2 separate regions of the Homo sapiens genome follow, and region 1 is linked to region 2. Evidence: fine-mapped expression QTL. Tissue or cell type: whole blood. Region 2 holds a variant in brackets; the other region holds the start of a gene. All regions are shown on one strand. Distances are between the middles of the regions.

What was found. PIP is the estimated chance that this variant, and not a neighbour inherited with it, causes the effect.
Region 1: E2F5 starts here. The variant in region 2 is fine-mapped to the expression of E2F5 in whole blood (TOPMed, PIP above 0.99).

Annotation. Positions count from the first base shown.
Region 1 is chr8:85,173,943-85,181,725 of GRCh38, reverse strand. It overlaps E2F5 (E2F transcription factor 5), which reads right to left and starts at 4,572. Exons shown (of 8, transcript NM_001951.4): 1 at 4,072-4,572. The coding sequence starts at 4,305. It overlaps E2F5-DT (E2F5 divergent transcript), which reads left to right and starts at 4,685. Exons shown (of 3, transcript NR_134311.1): 1 at 4,685-4,895. RefSeq lists silencers at 3,712-4,101, 4,112-4,641 and an enhancer at 4,742-4,911.
Region 2 is chr8:85,200,202-85,207,984 of GRCh38, reverse strand. It overlaps E2F5 (E2F transcription factor 5), which reads right to left. Exons shown (of 8, transcript NM_001951.4): 2 at 5,729-5,838; 3 at 4,730-4,891; 4 at 1,765-1,808; 5 at 496-560. Among named protein-coding and RNA genes, the nearest start is that of RBIS, 16 kb to the left of the region's middle. RefSeq lists a silencer at 7,326-7,385. The variant G/A (reference allele first, on the strand shown) is at 3,779.

The DNA of each region.
Region 1 (7,783 bases), 26 kb after region 2:
GGCCTCTCAAAGTGCTGGGATTACAGGCGTGAGCCACCACGCCTGACCGAGCCATGTTTTCAATTAGTTATATTATTAAGAAGAAATGGCCAGGCGCGGTGGCTCACGCCTGTAATCCCAGCACTTTGGGAGGCCGAGGTGGGAGGATCACGAGGTCAGAAGATCGAGACCATTCTAACACGGTGAAACCCCACCTCTACTAAAAATACAAAAAAAAAAAAAACAAAACTAGCCGGGCGTGGTGGCGGGCGCCTGTAGTCCCAGCTACTCAGGAGCCTGAGGCAGGAGAATGGCGTGAACCCAGGAGGCGGAGCTTGCAGCGAGTGGAGATCGCGACACTGCACTCCAGCTTGGGTGACAGAGTGAGACTCCCGTCTCAAAAAAAAAGAAGAAATGTGTCACTAAGATACAACCTTACGTTCTTATTCTCCAGCAGCATAAGATAGAAAAGAAATAGCATCTATGTGGTCTAGGATACTTTATGATATCCAAAATATTTGGATATTTTACTTGAAGTTTGATATACTTTTTTATTCTTTGGGATATTCAAAAACTGTTTCTTCAAGGCCGGAAGCGGTGGCTCACAGGGGAGACCAAGGTAGGCAGATAGCTTTGAGCTCAGGAGTTCGAGACCAGCCTGGGCAATATGGCAAAACCCTGTCTCTACTAAAAATATAAAAATAAGCCAGGCATAATGGTGTACGCCTGTAGTGCCAGCTACTTGGTAGGCTGAGGCAGGAGAATCACTTGAGCCCGGGAAGTGGAGGTTACAATGAGCTGAGATTGTACCACTGCACTCCAGCCTGGGCGACAGAATAAGACCCTGTCTCAAAAAACAAACAAGACCGGCCGGGCGCGGTGGCTCACGCTTGTAATCCCAGCACTTTGGGAGGCCGAGGCGGGCGGATCACGAGGTCAGAAGATCGAGACCATCCTGGCTAACATGGTGAAACCCCGTCTCTACTAAAAATACAAAAAAAATTAGCCGGGCGTGATGGCGGGTGCCTGTAGTCCCAGCTACTCGGGAGGCTGAGGCAGGAGAATGGCATGAACCCGGGAGGCGGAGCTTGCAGTGAGCCGAGATTGCGCCACTGCACTCCCGCCTGGGCCACAGAGCGAGACTCTGTCTCAAAAAAAAAAAAAAAAAAAAACAAGACCAACCAAAAAACCATATATATATATATATATATATATATATATATATATATATATATGTATAGTTTCTTTAACTGCGTTTAAAAGTCAAGTGTATAACTTAAAAGTTTCAAAAAAATTATGCTGAAATATGCCCCCACCAAAGTAAGAATACAAGAGAAAATGTGTCTTTATAATTTCAAATTAGAGGAAATTTATAATTGTCAGTGTGAGTCCATCTTTAATATGTATTATCAAACATGTCTTAATGGGCTGGGTATGGTGGCTCACGCCTGTAATCCCAGCACTCTGGGAGGCTGAGGCAAGCAGATCATTTGAGGTTGGGAGTTCGAGACCAGCCTGGCCAACATGGTGAAACCCCTTCTCTACTAAACATACAAAAATGAGTCGGGCATGGTGGCGGGCACCTGTAATCCCAGCTACTTGGGAGGCTGAGGCAGGAGAATCGCTTGAACCCGGGAGGTGGAGGTTGCAGTGAGCAGAGATCTGCCACTGCACTCCAGCCTGGGTGACAGAGCAAGACTCAGTCTCAAAAAAAAAAGGCTTTAACGATCTTTTACTATGGTGTATAATAAGAAATATCATTGGAAAGATTTCAATGTAAGATTTTTGGCCGGGCGCGGTGGCTCACGCCTGTAATCCCAGCACTTTGGGAGGCCGAGGCGCGTGGATCACAAGGTCAGGAGATCGAGACCATCCTAGCTAACACAGTGAAACCCTGTCTCTACTAAAATTACAAAAAAATTAGCTGGGTGCGCTGGCGGGCGCCTGTAGTCCGAGCTACTCGGGAGGCTGACACAGGAGAATGGCGTGAACCCGGGAGGCGGAGCTTGCAGTGAGCCCAGATCGCGCCACTGCACTCCAGCCTGGGCGACAGAGCAAGACTCCGTCTCAAAAAAGAAAAAAAAAAGATTTTTACATATATAAGTATATATAAATAAATGAAAAATATACGTAAAATACATAAAACATATGTTTTTCATACATATATATGAAAACTAAAGACATTCAAACTCTTTTCTAGGAGTATGAAGTCATTAATATAATGAGACAGTGTTATTGTAGAAACCTTTGAATTTTTAGGAGAGTTCCAGAATGAATAAAGCAATTATTGTCATGAAATACCAAACTTTACATCCTACTCACTGCCTCTGTGACTTCTGTAGGGCAATTATATAGCCACAGATGAAACAGGAGGAAGCTAAAGAATTTCAAGTCAAGAAAGGGCAAAGTTCCACCATATCCTGAGGCAAGCTGAGGGAGAAGCCCTCAAAGTCCAGCCGTCAGAGTTCAGTTTTACCTGGAAAACCCCAAACTTCCCTGATTTTCTTACACCAAAGTCACAGGCTACAGCTGAATTTCTAGATTTTGAACAGCAGTTTGCCACCTGTGCTTTGTAACATTCCTGGCTTTCTCTGATAACTTCATGACTTCCTGTGAAATTCTTTAAACAGAATCCATTTTAATTCACTACAATTTAAATACTACACATGCCATAAATCACTTTCAGGGAGAGAAAGGAAGAAGGGGCTGTGGTGGAAAAAAGAGAACAAGGAATTTCCAGAGGTGGGAAAAAAATTCCAGGAATAACATATCAAAAAGAAAATAGTAGAAATTACTTACCAAAATGCAAAATATGTGCAGCATGCCTCAGTTGTATGAAGTTGAACAATTTAGGTAATTCAGTTCAACAATCACTGATTGAACACCAACTACATCCAGGGAAAGGAGAGGGCACTGAAAAGATCTACTTCCCCTTGGGCTACACTGGAGGAGGGCCTCTAGCAGAAGAGTTGGCCCCTGCAAGTCTTGGTCCTTACATTCAGGGAGCTGCCACTGCTTTATGCAGAGCCTTGAGGATGCAGTGACACTCTCAAGCCAGGTAAGGTGGTCCAGGCACTCCCCTGGGAGCTGGGGCCAATCCTCCAAGTAAGGCCACATTTAGGGAGTCAAAGGGGATTTGCAGTGATTATTGGGCAGTTAGTGTTTTTTGTTTGTTTGTTTCTAAAACTTTAGTTCTTAAACTTCGCGCGGAGTGACCACATTCTCATTATCCTGAGCGCTGTTGAATTCTTCCAAATCCTTCCTAGATCGGTTAAGTCATTCTGTATGACAGAACAGCTTTTGATGCCTGCTCCTGTTTGAAAAATCTGAACGCTGTAAAGGACGACGCAGGGAGAGAGTTTACTGAGCACTTCCACCTCTTTGGGTGAAAGTTGTAAAATATCCCCTTTTCGTGTGACAGCAGATCTCACTTTTGGAAACCCATGACACATGCCAAATGAAGTCACAAATCAAATACCCCTCCTAACTATCAGGGTGATGAAAGAAGTGCACAAGGAAGATTTAATACTATTTTATCGGGGAGGGGCGTGGAAAGAAGTACTCTTTTTTTTTTTTCTTTCATCTGGTAGAGATGGCAGACTGGGTTTTGTTTTTCCTCCTTTTTATTTAAACTACAGGAACATGGTTCCAACTGGAATCGCCTATTAAAACCATCCATTCTTAACAGCAAAATCGATATCCACGGTGTCTCCGGGCAAAGCGCCCGTTACCCCGTGAGCCTCTGCCACAGGTGGACGCAGAGCAACAGACACTCGGTTACCCTCAGGTCCCTGCGCCCGGAGACAGAAGCCACGCGGGCGCGCTCGAGGTCCTGGGCTCTTTGTCGAGAGCCCAGCGTGGCGCCGGGCCCCATTGGTTACGCGTCCGCTCGGTGCCATCCTGGTCCCTCGTCCCTCCCCCATCCCGGCGTCCACGACCCGGGCGCAGGCCACATGGTCCTCGGATTGCCCGGTCCCGGGTCCCCGCAAGGCGCGTCTACACCACGCCGCTAGACCCACGCGGCGAGGGGCTGGGCTTCCCCGGGGGCCACGGGTTCCGAAGTCCGCCCCCGTCCCCGCCTCCGGAGCTCACCGCTTTGAGATCCAGAACGCCGTCCTTGGCCTCCTGCAGCAGCGACACGAACTTGGTAGTGAGCAGCCCCAGGCTCTTCTCGTGCCTGCTGCTGCCGCCCCCGGCGCCCCCGAGCTGCGGCGGCGGGGGCGGCTGCGGGGCTTGCGCCTGCGGAGGCTGCGGCGGCGGCCGCTGGCCCTGCCCCTGCCCTGCCGGCGCCTGCTGGCCCGAGCTCGCGGGCTCTGCCGCCGCCATCGCGTCCCGGCCCCGCGGTGGTCGGGCCCCCGCGCACTTTCGCTCGCCGGCCCCGCCCGCGGCCACCTGCCGGGTCGGCTCCGCTGCGGCCGCTTCCCCGCCCGCCGAGAGCGGTAGTGCGGGTCGCTGGCTGCTGCAAACAACAGGTGTGCGGCGCCCACGGGAGTCTGGGCCGCTTGTCACGCCGGGCCTCCGCCCCCTCCCCAAGCCCGGGGAAGCGTGAATGAGGCCCACGACCGAGGGGGGAGGGGTGGAAACGAGGAGAAGGGGCTGCGAGGGGTGGGGACCTGAGTTTAAATGGCAGGAAGTGACGCCGCCGCCCGCCGTTGCCTAGAAACACATTTTTCTGTAGGAAGGAGGAGCGCACGAGGAGGAGGAGGGGTGTTGGCGCGTGTGTTTCACACTCGCCTCCCTGGCGTTCGCGAGCTGACCCGAGGAGTGGTAATCTCACGCGGCAAAGCAGGGAGGAAGAAAAAAAGGAGACAAAAGAAAAAAAGACTTTTATCTGGGCAGAAAGTCACAATGCCTAGCGGCCAAACGTTTGTGAGCGGTGAAGTTGGTTGACTGCTCAAGTTTGCAGAGCTTCAGCAGTAGGTTACTTTCTCTGGACGGTTTCTGCTATCTTTGCTCTTTTCGAGCTCTAGCATCGTTTGCAAATATTTCAATGACTTGGACCAAGTGCAGAGTTTTACTTCATAGCTCACCCTTTTAGATTCGGAGTACAGAAAAAGGCATCGTGGAGTTTTAGGGTTGGTTTTCATCAATCCTTTCCAAGGCCTTTACTTTCTACATGGAGAAACGTGTAGAGGGAGAGGTTGTGAATTGCCAAAGACATGCCGTTAGATTCCAGATCTCCTGTGTTTGACCAAAGTTCTTGACCAAAGTTCTTAATATCTTATTTGAACCAAATTATATTGTATTTGGAATATTGGGTAGCCACAGGCCCTTGGACTTCAGTGATATTCCAAACTATTGATGGCAAATGACATTATGGAGATCTGAGTAAAAGAAAGTCGTTGGGATTTTTTCCTCATTATATTACAAACTCTTGAGAATCCAGACTAAATTTTAAATGACTTGTTGTCACACTCAACACTTTGAATATAGTAGACAATAAAGATTAGGCGAATGAGACCAGGCGCGGTGGCTTACGCCTGTAATCCCAGCACTTTGGGAGGCCGAGGCAGGCAGATCATTTGAGATCAGGAGTTCGAGACCAACCTGGCCAACATGGTAAAACCCCGTCTCTACTAAAAATACAAAAATTAGCGGGGGGTGGTGGTGCCCGCCTATAGTCCCAGCTACTCCAGAGCCTGAGGCAGGAGAATCTCTTAAACCCAGGAGGCAGACGTTGCAGTGTTGCAGTGAGCCGAGATGCCACCACTGCACTTCAGCCTGGGCAACAAAGCAAGACTCTGTCTCAAATAAAAAAAAAAAAGATTAGGTGAATGAAAATTCTATATGGCAATAATTAATCAAGAAGATTTCATGCAAGAAAGATTTTGCTTAATTTTAAGTAACAATAAACTAACAAAAAAGGTCACTGAAGCGACATCAAATACAACAGCATTAACTAGTAAAGCTGAACACACCATTTATAACACATCATAGGCACAGAACTTTATAACCTTTATTAATAACCTATTCATAATAACCTTTATTTTAATCAAATCTATAAACAAAACTTAAAATTGAAAATCTGAAGTAAAACATGAAAAATTCAGTTGATACAACCATTTTCCAACAACCTATCCAAGAAAGGCTATCTTTATTTGATTTGACATGGGACACATCATTGACAAGTTTTGCAAATTTATTTTATTGATTATTGTCAAGTAGTATTTCTTAGAACATACTGAATTAGGAAGATTCTAATTTGTTTTTAACTTTATAACAGAACATTGTGTTATATGTGCAGGGACAGGAATTAATAACACTAAATGTATTAATATTTTTAAAACTTACACTTCTATGGTGTCTTAGTTTGAGAAAGTACCATAAACTGGGTGACTTAACGGAAATTAATTTTCTCACAGTTCTGGAGGCTGCAAGTCGACGATCAGGAGGCTGCCATGGCCAGGTTGTGGTGAGGGCCCCCTTCTTGGCTGTCAGATTGTGGCTTTCTCATTGTGTCAAATGGCAGAGAGAGAGAGAAAGACAGACAGAACAGAGACAGCATAAGCTCTCAGATTTCTTATAAGGGCACTAATTCCATCTGAGGGCTCAATCTTCACGATTTCATCTAAACCTAATCACCTCCCAAAGGCCCGAGGGTTAGGGTTTCAACATACAAATGTTGGGGAGATATAGTTCATCCCATGGCATGTAATCATATTTTATAGTAGCTATCTTGGTAATTTTTAAAAACAATATTTTTTAAATTTCAGCTTTAAAAGGTTTTCTACAAAGCAATTATATTATTAGTGATTCTAAAAGGTCAATTAACAATTTATTTTGCACTGTTATTTGTGTTTTTCACAATGAATTTTTTATCTCTTTAGATTGCCTGGGGTTCAATTAGAAATTATTCACAAATTAGCAGCCATTTTAATTAGCATTCAAAATCTTATGTCTGTCTGAAGAGCTAAAAATCGCTTATACCAGTGGTTCCCAGACCTTAGGGGAAAAAATCATCTACAATGTTTGTTAAAAATCTAGATGCTTGGATCCAAACCCCAGGGATCAAATTAGCATTTGATATGAGAATATGACCTGTGAGTCCACATTTTTCACAGTTCAGATAATTCTCATGCACAACATAGTCATTCTTTGAGAAACGCCAAATAGCACAATGAAAAATAATGCAATATATATTTTTCCTAAAAATCGACAAAAAACAGAGATTGATAATGCAAAAGTTTTTTAAATATTGCTAAATGTTTTTAAAAATTCTATTTTTTAAAAAAACTAAGAAACATGATTTTTTAAAAGTTATGATACAAATAATGTTTAAGAACATGATATTGATCAGTTTTGTAATTTAACTTTTATTTCTGTATCCTTTTGACTATAAAGGAGATAACTCTCAAAAGGCTGTAAATTCCTACATCAGTTCTTTGTGCCATTTCTGACAAAGGCTTAAAAATTATTTCCAACAAAAGTCAAAGCTGGCTGAGTGCTCACGCCTGGCTGGGCACTCACGCCTGTCTGTAATCCTAGCACTTTGGAGGGCTGAGAGAAGAGGATTGCCTGAACCCAGGAACTCAGGACCAGCCTGGACAACATGGCAAAACCCCATTTCTACAAAAACTACAAAAATTAGCTGGGCGTGGTAGTGCACACTTGTAGTCCCAGCCACTAGAGAGGCTGAGGTGAGAGGATCACTTGAGCCCAAGAGGTCAAGGATGTAGTGACCTGTCATCCTGCCACTGCAATCCAGCCTGAGTGACAGAGTGAGAATCTATCCTAAAAAAAAAAAAAAAAAAAAAAATCCAATTGAACTAAACTATATTTCATTGACCTATAAGGGTAATAAATG
Region 2 (7,783 bases):
ATCCTCTAACTTAAAAAATTCAAATTTAAAATAATTTAATCAAAATGTTAAATCATTTTAAATCATTTGGTTACTTGGGGATAGATATCTTAGGGATAGGACCCAAGTCTAAACACAATATTCATTTGTTTCATACACACCTTATTCACATAGCCTGAAGATAATTTTATACAATAGTTTTAATTTTTGTATGAAACAAAAATCACTTGATAAAGCATTCTGATTACTTTTTAAAAATTGACTTTGAGCTAAATGATATCAATAAATGACTAAGGATATAGCCAATAATCTTTAAAATCATTTATGATTCATTTAGTTCTATAATTTTACCAAGGAATTAAAGACATACAAATTCAGCTATCAATACTTTTAGATAAAAACTTGACTAACTCACAGTGTTTACACAATTAGCTCACATTCAGCTAAAGAAAATATCCTTCTTGAGACAGTAGATTCATTTTTCCCACTTATATAAACATAAGTTATCCTACATACCATTTCTGGAATGGGTACCTCCAGTTGTGTACCAGAAGGTGCCTGAATGGCCAAAAGTGTATCACCTGGTCAAAAATAAATATAAAAAGTTACATAAAATACTGTTGATCATGGAATACAGTGGCAAGAATGTGGGCTCTGGAATCAGAGTGTTTGGTTCAATCCCAAACTAGGTGACCTTGAGCTTTGATTTTCAATTCTATAAAATGGGGGATACACAACCTACTGCATAGATTTATTTTGAGGATTAAATAAGATAATACATGTATTAGTATTATACATGGGTTAGCTGTATGATTCTCATTAACAAATTCAGCTCAAGTTGATTTTGCTTTGACTAAGACTCCTGTAAAGTCTGAGATTCTTAAGACCATTTAGCCTCAAATAACACTGTTCATTGGACTGAGGATAGTGGAGATTAGGTATGAGACACTGAAATGTTGAGCTTAAATGATTTTATTATTTTTGAAGCCAAATTCTACAACAAATCTCTGTTGAGTTGCAGATTAACAGAAGTCTCAGCAAACTTCCTTAAAAAACTCAGGAAATACAGTGGTAAAATAGAACAATAGTCCTATACTTATTTCCAACATAGTCTTACATAGAAAGTCAGATTCCACTTGATGAGGTACTTGGCAGAATCTTTTTAAATAGGTGGATAATACACATAAATTTAAATATGCACAATTTCATTTTACTTGTGCTATAATTTTGGGAACACACGTCCCCCCATTTTAGTTATATTAATAATTATAATTATTAACATGATATTGTTATTTTAAGGAGAAAACACAGGGGCAGCAAATTGCATAGGAATAGGTTTCCTGGTTATAAGATGGATTCACCTAATTCTTTCCTTATGGTTTCTTTGAGTTTCATTTGAGACCAGCATACTTGCATATAGTTTGATAAACAATGCTGATGAGAACCATGTTCTAGTTCAAGTTTGGTCACTAACTCTGTGACTGTGTGACAATGAAAGTTGCTTAATCCCGCTCTGATTTAGCTTGCCCTCTGTCCCTGTCCCCTTCCCCTTCCACACACAGTTGATCCCTACCAGTGGAGCTAATGAACTGAATGCTGTGAAAAGCAGCTATTCTCATGAAAACAGAAACAAAAGCAGTCTATCAATACACGGCATGGTGGAGTGAGACACAATGCCCACAACTTCTGAAAATAATGACAGGATGAGGACACAGGGAATTCTGAATCACCCTCCACTAAATAGGTTGAGAGGAAGAATGCAAGGAAAAGTCTAATGGTACTTACCATTAAAGCAATTACAGATGTCTTCATGAGTTACATAGGAAAATGTACTGTCATAGGAGTTAAGGAACGACATTTATATCAAGCCGTAGGCATTTAAATTAAGGTAATACATCTGAAGGTCAAAATAACTAAATGACCATATGCACAGAGGGACTGCCACACATGGACAGACAAAAAAAGAAGTCTAGTCTAGAAAGGTAAAGACAAAGGAGTTCCCATCCTTTGCTCTTAGAAGAAGCCATTCTGATTTTTGTGACATTTGAGGACCCTTAGGAGAGAGATGGAAAGCAGTGCACATTCTTCATGGAGGCAAAGGTTTCTGGGGGAAGGGAATGGATGGGGAAAAGGAGGCCATCAGCAACCATATCAGCTTCCACATCAGGAATTTTCTGTGATCGTTGTTTTTTGTTCTTGTATTAAATGGTCAGGTATGGCCACAAGAGGACACAGAGGATTAAAGAAAGGCTCAGAAAAACAAAGTATTATACTCATAGGTCCTAGTGACGGGAGGCAAGGCAGGCTACTCAGGGCCACATGGTTAAGACAACAAGGTGGTCAGGAGGCAGAAGACAGGAGCAAGGGGAAAGCATTAGCCCAGAGCTTTTATTGGGGTTTCCTTGGGAAAAGAAATGCAGGGTGGCTGGGCATGGTGGCTCACGCCACCCAGCACTTTGGGAGGCCGAGGCAGGTGGATCACTTGAGGTCAGGAGTTCAAGACCAGCCTGACCATATGCACAGAGGGGCTGCCACACATGGACAGATAAAAAAAGAAGTCTAGTCTAGAGATGGTGAAACCCATCTCTACTAAAATACAAAACTTAGCAGGGCATGGTGGTGAGCACCTGTAATCACAGCTACTCTGGAGGCTGAGGCAGAAGAATTGCTTAAACCCGGGGGGTGGAGGTTGCAGTGAGCCAAGATCGCATCACTGCACTCCAGCCTGGGCAACAGAGCGACTCCATCTCAGGAAAAAAAAAAAAGCAGGGTGGGGAGAACACTACGATTAGCTAGTCTGGATAATTTTGTTTTGTTTTATTTTGAGACGGAGTTTGCTCTATCGCCCAAGCTGAAGTGCAGTAGTGTGATCTTGGCTCACTGCAGCTTCTGCCTCCTGGGTTCAAGCAATTCTCCTATGGCCTCCCTGGTAGCTGGGATTACAGATGCACATTGCCATGCCCAGCTAGTTTTTGTACTTTTAGTACGGACAGGGTTTCACCCTGTTGGCCAGGCTGGTCTCAAACTCCTGACCTCAGGTGATCCGCCAACCTTGGCTTCCCAAAGTGCTGGGATTACAGGCGTGAGCCACTGCATTTGGCCTAGTTTGGATAATTTTGGTGGGCTCTAAGCTATGCAGGTAGTCCCCCAGTTGTCTGGTACCTGACCCTGGGATGATTAAGGCAGAGGAATATTGCCACCTGGGGTGTATGGACTGGAGAGAGGAGGTCTGGACCTTGACTGGTTAGTTTATATATCAAAGGGATGCTCCTGGCTGAGCCCATGCTGTTTCTTTTTTTTTAATTTTATTATTATTATACTTTAAGTTTTAGGGTACATGTGCACAACGTGCAGGTTTGTTACATATGTATACATGTGCCATGTTGGCGTGCTGCACCCAATAACTCGTCATTTAGCATTAGGTATATCTCATAATGCTCTCCCTCCCCCCTCCCCCCACCCCACAACAGTCCCTGGTGTGTGATGTTCCCCTTCCTGTGTCCATGTGTTCTCATTGTTCAATTCCCACCTATGAGTGAGAACATGAGGTGTTTGGTTTTTTTGTCCTTGCGATAGTTTGCTGAGAATGATGGTTTCCAGCGTCATCCATGACCCTAAAAAGGACATGAGCCCATGCTGTTTCTAAGAAGTGGCTAGTCCCAGGATGGGCAGTCTCTCCTCAGCCAGAAAGGTTTATGGAGATGTCAAAATACCATAATATACAGAAAACTTTATATATATCACACATAACCATGGTTGGGGCAATGGGAATGGCCAGCATCTCGTAAAGCAGGGCAGC[G/A]AAGTCCAAGATAAAATAGATTAATGGCTTTTGAATTTCAGAGCTCCACAGAACACAGCTTGAAAACTCCCATTGTTCTCAAACTGTTAAGGGGCTCTGATCCATACAAAGGAAATAACAAATGAGATCATGGACTTGTTCACCAAATACATGAAAATGTGAAAAGTAAATTATATTGTATACATTAGTCAAAATTTCATGAGGTGCTACAAGGTAAAATGTGGTTAGTTTCTTTAAGAGTACAGGTAAGTTCATAAACTAAGAGAATCACAGATACCTGAGAGAAGACGGTGGTTTGTAAGAAACACATGGATATGTGTTTTTATATATATAATAATGTTTTTATATATTATATATAAATATATTTTATATATTATATATGATATTATATGTATTATATATAATAATGTTTTTCCCCCAATATATATTGTTGATAGGCACACACGACTTAGACCCCTGTTCTCCAGTAGGAACTATTTTGGGGTTCATGTTAGGCAGAAAGTATCAAGGATTGATTGTGGACACATCATATCTCATCTTTAAACGAAAAATTTTCAAAACTTTGAGAGCTGCTGAATTTTATACTTCAGAACACTGAACATAATTATTTAAAAATACAAATGTACTTAACAATGGCTTCTAATATTCACAGATTTCCTAAGCACACTGGCTAGCATACTGCATTCTATCAATTGGTAGACCAAAAGTTGGCTAATCTCTTTTTCCCCCTCAGTGCAACACAGGAATAACGCTAACGGATCTGTACTATATAACTTAAAAAGGTAACATTTAGAAAATATTAGTATATAAGAATATAATAAAATTAAAATGTCATATTTACTTATAAAACTTAACTGTCTAAAAACAAAGTGAATGATCTTTAGACTGAAATGATTTATACATACATATTCCAAAGCTATATGTATATGCATAACTTATTTAAAAGGATATCTATTATTAATGGAATCGTCCATCACATTTTTGATGCTTTGCTGTAGCCACAACTTCTGCTGATCAAGTTCTCTTTCCTTCAGTTCTAGATCTTCAATTTCAGCTTTAAGATATCTTAATCTATCTATGACTTCTTTAGTATTACAGCCAGCACCTACACCTCTTAAAAACATATGAGAATTAATATCCTCAGTATCAGATCTAGGTTAATATCACTTAATTTTTACTGTAATAAAACTGACTTATTTAGTAATATATTCAAGACAGAAGTCTTTACACTCTTAAAATCAAGCACTAAAATCCTTAAAAATTTTAAACACCATACTTCTTGCTTAGAAAATTTATTGACAAGAACAACCAAATTACAAAAATTCTCAATCTTCCCTACAGTGTTTTTTTGTCATCTGGAAGGCCAGACTGGTTGGTGACTGGGTACCAAAAGAGTGTGCTCAGCAGTCACACCTAGCAGTCTCAGGATGTGACTGAGGTGCTGGTAAAATAAATTACAACATTTTAATGTTTTGGTGGAATTTTGGCGAAAACAAAACAAGACAAAAACTATGGTCAAAGGGGACACATTAGAAGAACAGAAATTGTTACATTCAAACGTATAACCAGGCCACAATTAATGACAACATGCGTTTCAATTAATTACTATTTACAAAGTACAAATTCCTATGAAAGTAGTTCTTGCTCTCAAGGACAGGTAAAGAGTTAGGAAGAGATTAATACAAGACAGTATGCAATGTGTGCCAAATGAGTAATAGCTTGAGGGAGAAAGTAAGATTTGAATTTTAAGAGCGAAAACCCAATATCCAAGAGAGCAAGGGAACACCCAACACAGGAGTGACACAGAGGCCCAGAAAGGTGTGTTCAGGGAAAGCTGAGGGGCCTGACTGAAATAGAGGATTTGGGAGATAGAAACATTGGGAAGGTCAAATTTTACAGAGCACTGAGAAGAAAAAAGGTTTCAGAAGAGGGTGCTGGTTTGTAACTTACTTCCACTGGATACTGTTTTTTGACTTTTTTTCAATCAAGTCAATTCCCTCTAAGACATTGGTGATATCATAAATTCTCCTTTTTTGCCTCACAGCCAAAGTATCAGCAGCCTGTTCAGGAAAGACAACGAGAACAGTGAAATAAAGGGCAAGTCATATTTTAAAGCCAAAAAGGGTTGATTATTAAATCCACAACAAGTCCAATCTCAAATTTGACCCACTCAGTTGCTTGGGGACAATAGCTGAGCATGTTCAAAGCATCTCCCAAACACTGCAAATACCAAAGAAATTATTCCATTTAAAAGCTAGCAGATGTTGGAACAGAAAAAGAAATTAAGGTCATGACACAAAGCCTGCAAAAATAAAAGAACACAATAAGAATACTTTGTGTCACCTTATGGACTAATCCTGAGGAGGAGCTACTAATTGCCTATCCATGTCACCTCCTATCTTATTTCTCTGTTCATAAACAGTCTCATCTAAAGATGCATTACTTATTTTTTAAAATTTTAAAGAATTACATCTCAGCAATTTATTTTGGTAATTAAGACACTTGGAAATTCTGAACTATATGCACACTTATAATACCTTGAAATAAATATCTACATTTTTAAATTAATAACGAAAACAGAGGAATGAATCATGCCATCCTAACACAAAGCATAAAATCAGCAAGAAATCAGAATCAATAGCTCAAGATTGCACTAGCAACTATTATACAAAAACTTGGTAGCTGCATTCACATTAGATAAGATCAACAAAACAATATATGCTATCATGTTATGAATTCAACAAACAATTCCTCTGATTAGTTCCAATTCACATTTTTGATGTGTGTTCCCAAAAGAACAAAGAGAACCTCAAAGAAGTTTTCAGAGTGGATTAGACAATAGCCTATTTTGAATGTGGAGCCACATTTTAAGATCCATGGTAGTTACAAATATTTGTGTCTCTACTGACAATTTTCAGCACATTATCTAAAATATCTAAATGAACAGGATTTAGCTTCACATAATTGCTAACAGCTCTCCCAGCTTCGCATAATTGCTAACAGCTCTCCCAGAGAGCATCACTACTTTCTTGATTCTGTGAAAACCTAGCTCAGCACAGTGTTTGCAATCTGGACCTGCCTTCCCCCCAGAGAAGGTGCCACTGACAGCTATATTCACTGTACAGGCATTTGGGATCTTAAGAGAAATGTCAGTTCTCTCAGACACATTTTTTTGTATGTGCCACCAAAACCCCCAGGTTACTGCTGTCCCATCATTCAGGTCTTCCTCAAGAAGGGGATTCATGCCTCAGTGGACCAGGAGAATAAGCAGGATGTGGCAGAAGAAGGAAAAGCAGGAGAGTGGGGCTCTTTGTTCCCCAACTCTAACTTGGCACTGTCCCTTCTAGAGAACCAGAAAATTAACAGCAGGACTAGCCATGGTTTGTTTCATTGATACCTTCTTCCCTTGTACTTAGCAATTCCCTTCTTGTTTTATCGACCTTCACAGAATTTTTACTCTTGACTTCGAGGCTGTTTTTATGAAGAGCAATACACGACTGCAAAGTTAACGGTACAAATCTGAAGCTGAGGTTTCATTTCTCACTTTCCTCTCTCTAGAGAAGTAACTCAGAGAACTCCAAGCCATGGCTCTGTGTTACTGGTATCTATGTACTCACACAGAAAAGCATTCACAGCCATAGCAACAGCACTCTGGTTTTGGTATCAGAACATGTTTGTATGAACCAGACCACAAGATCTAGCTTAGGTCATTAGGCAAAGTGCCATGAGATTTAATTTTTAGCTCAAAGTTTTAAAAAGGTGTCTTGTTTATCATTTATATTTATTACTGCTTAACAATCACAACATTTAACCCCTAGTTTCTAAAACTAAACATTATTTCTCAAATACTTTACTATTTAAGTATGTAAACATATAAATGACTAACATGTACAGATCATATGTAAAAGAATCTCCAGGAGGGTTTTATTTTAGAAAGTCCCATCATTCTTTTTTTTTTTTGAGACAGAGTCTCCCTCTCTTGCCGAAGCTGGAGTGCAGTGGTGT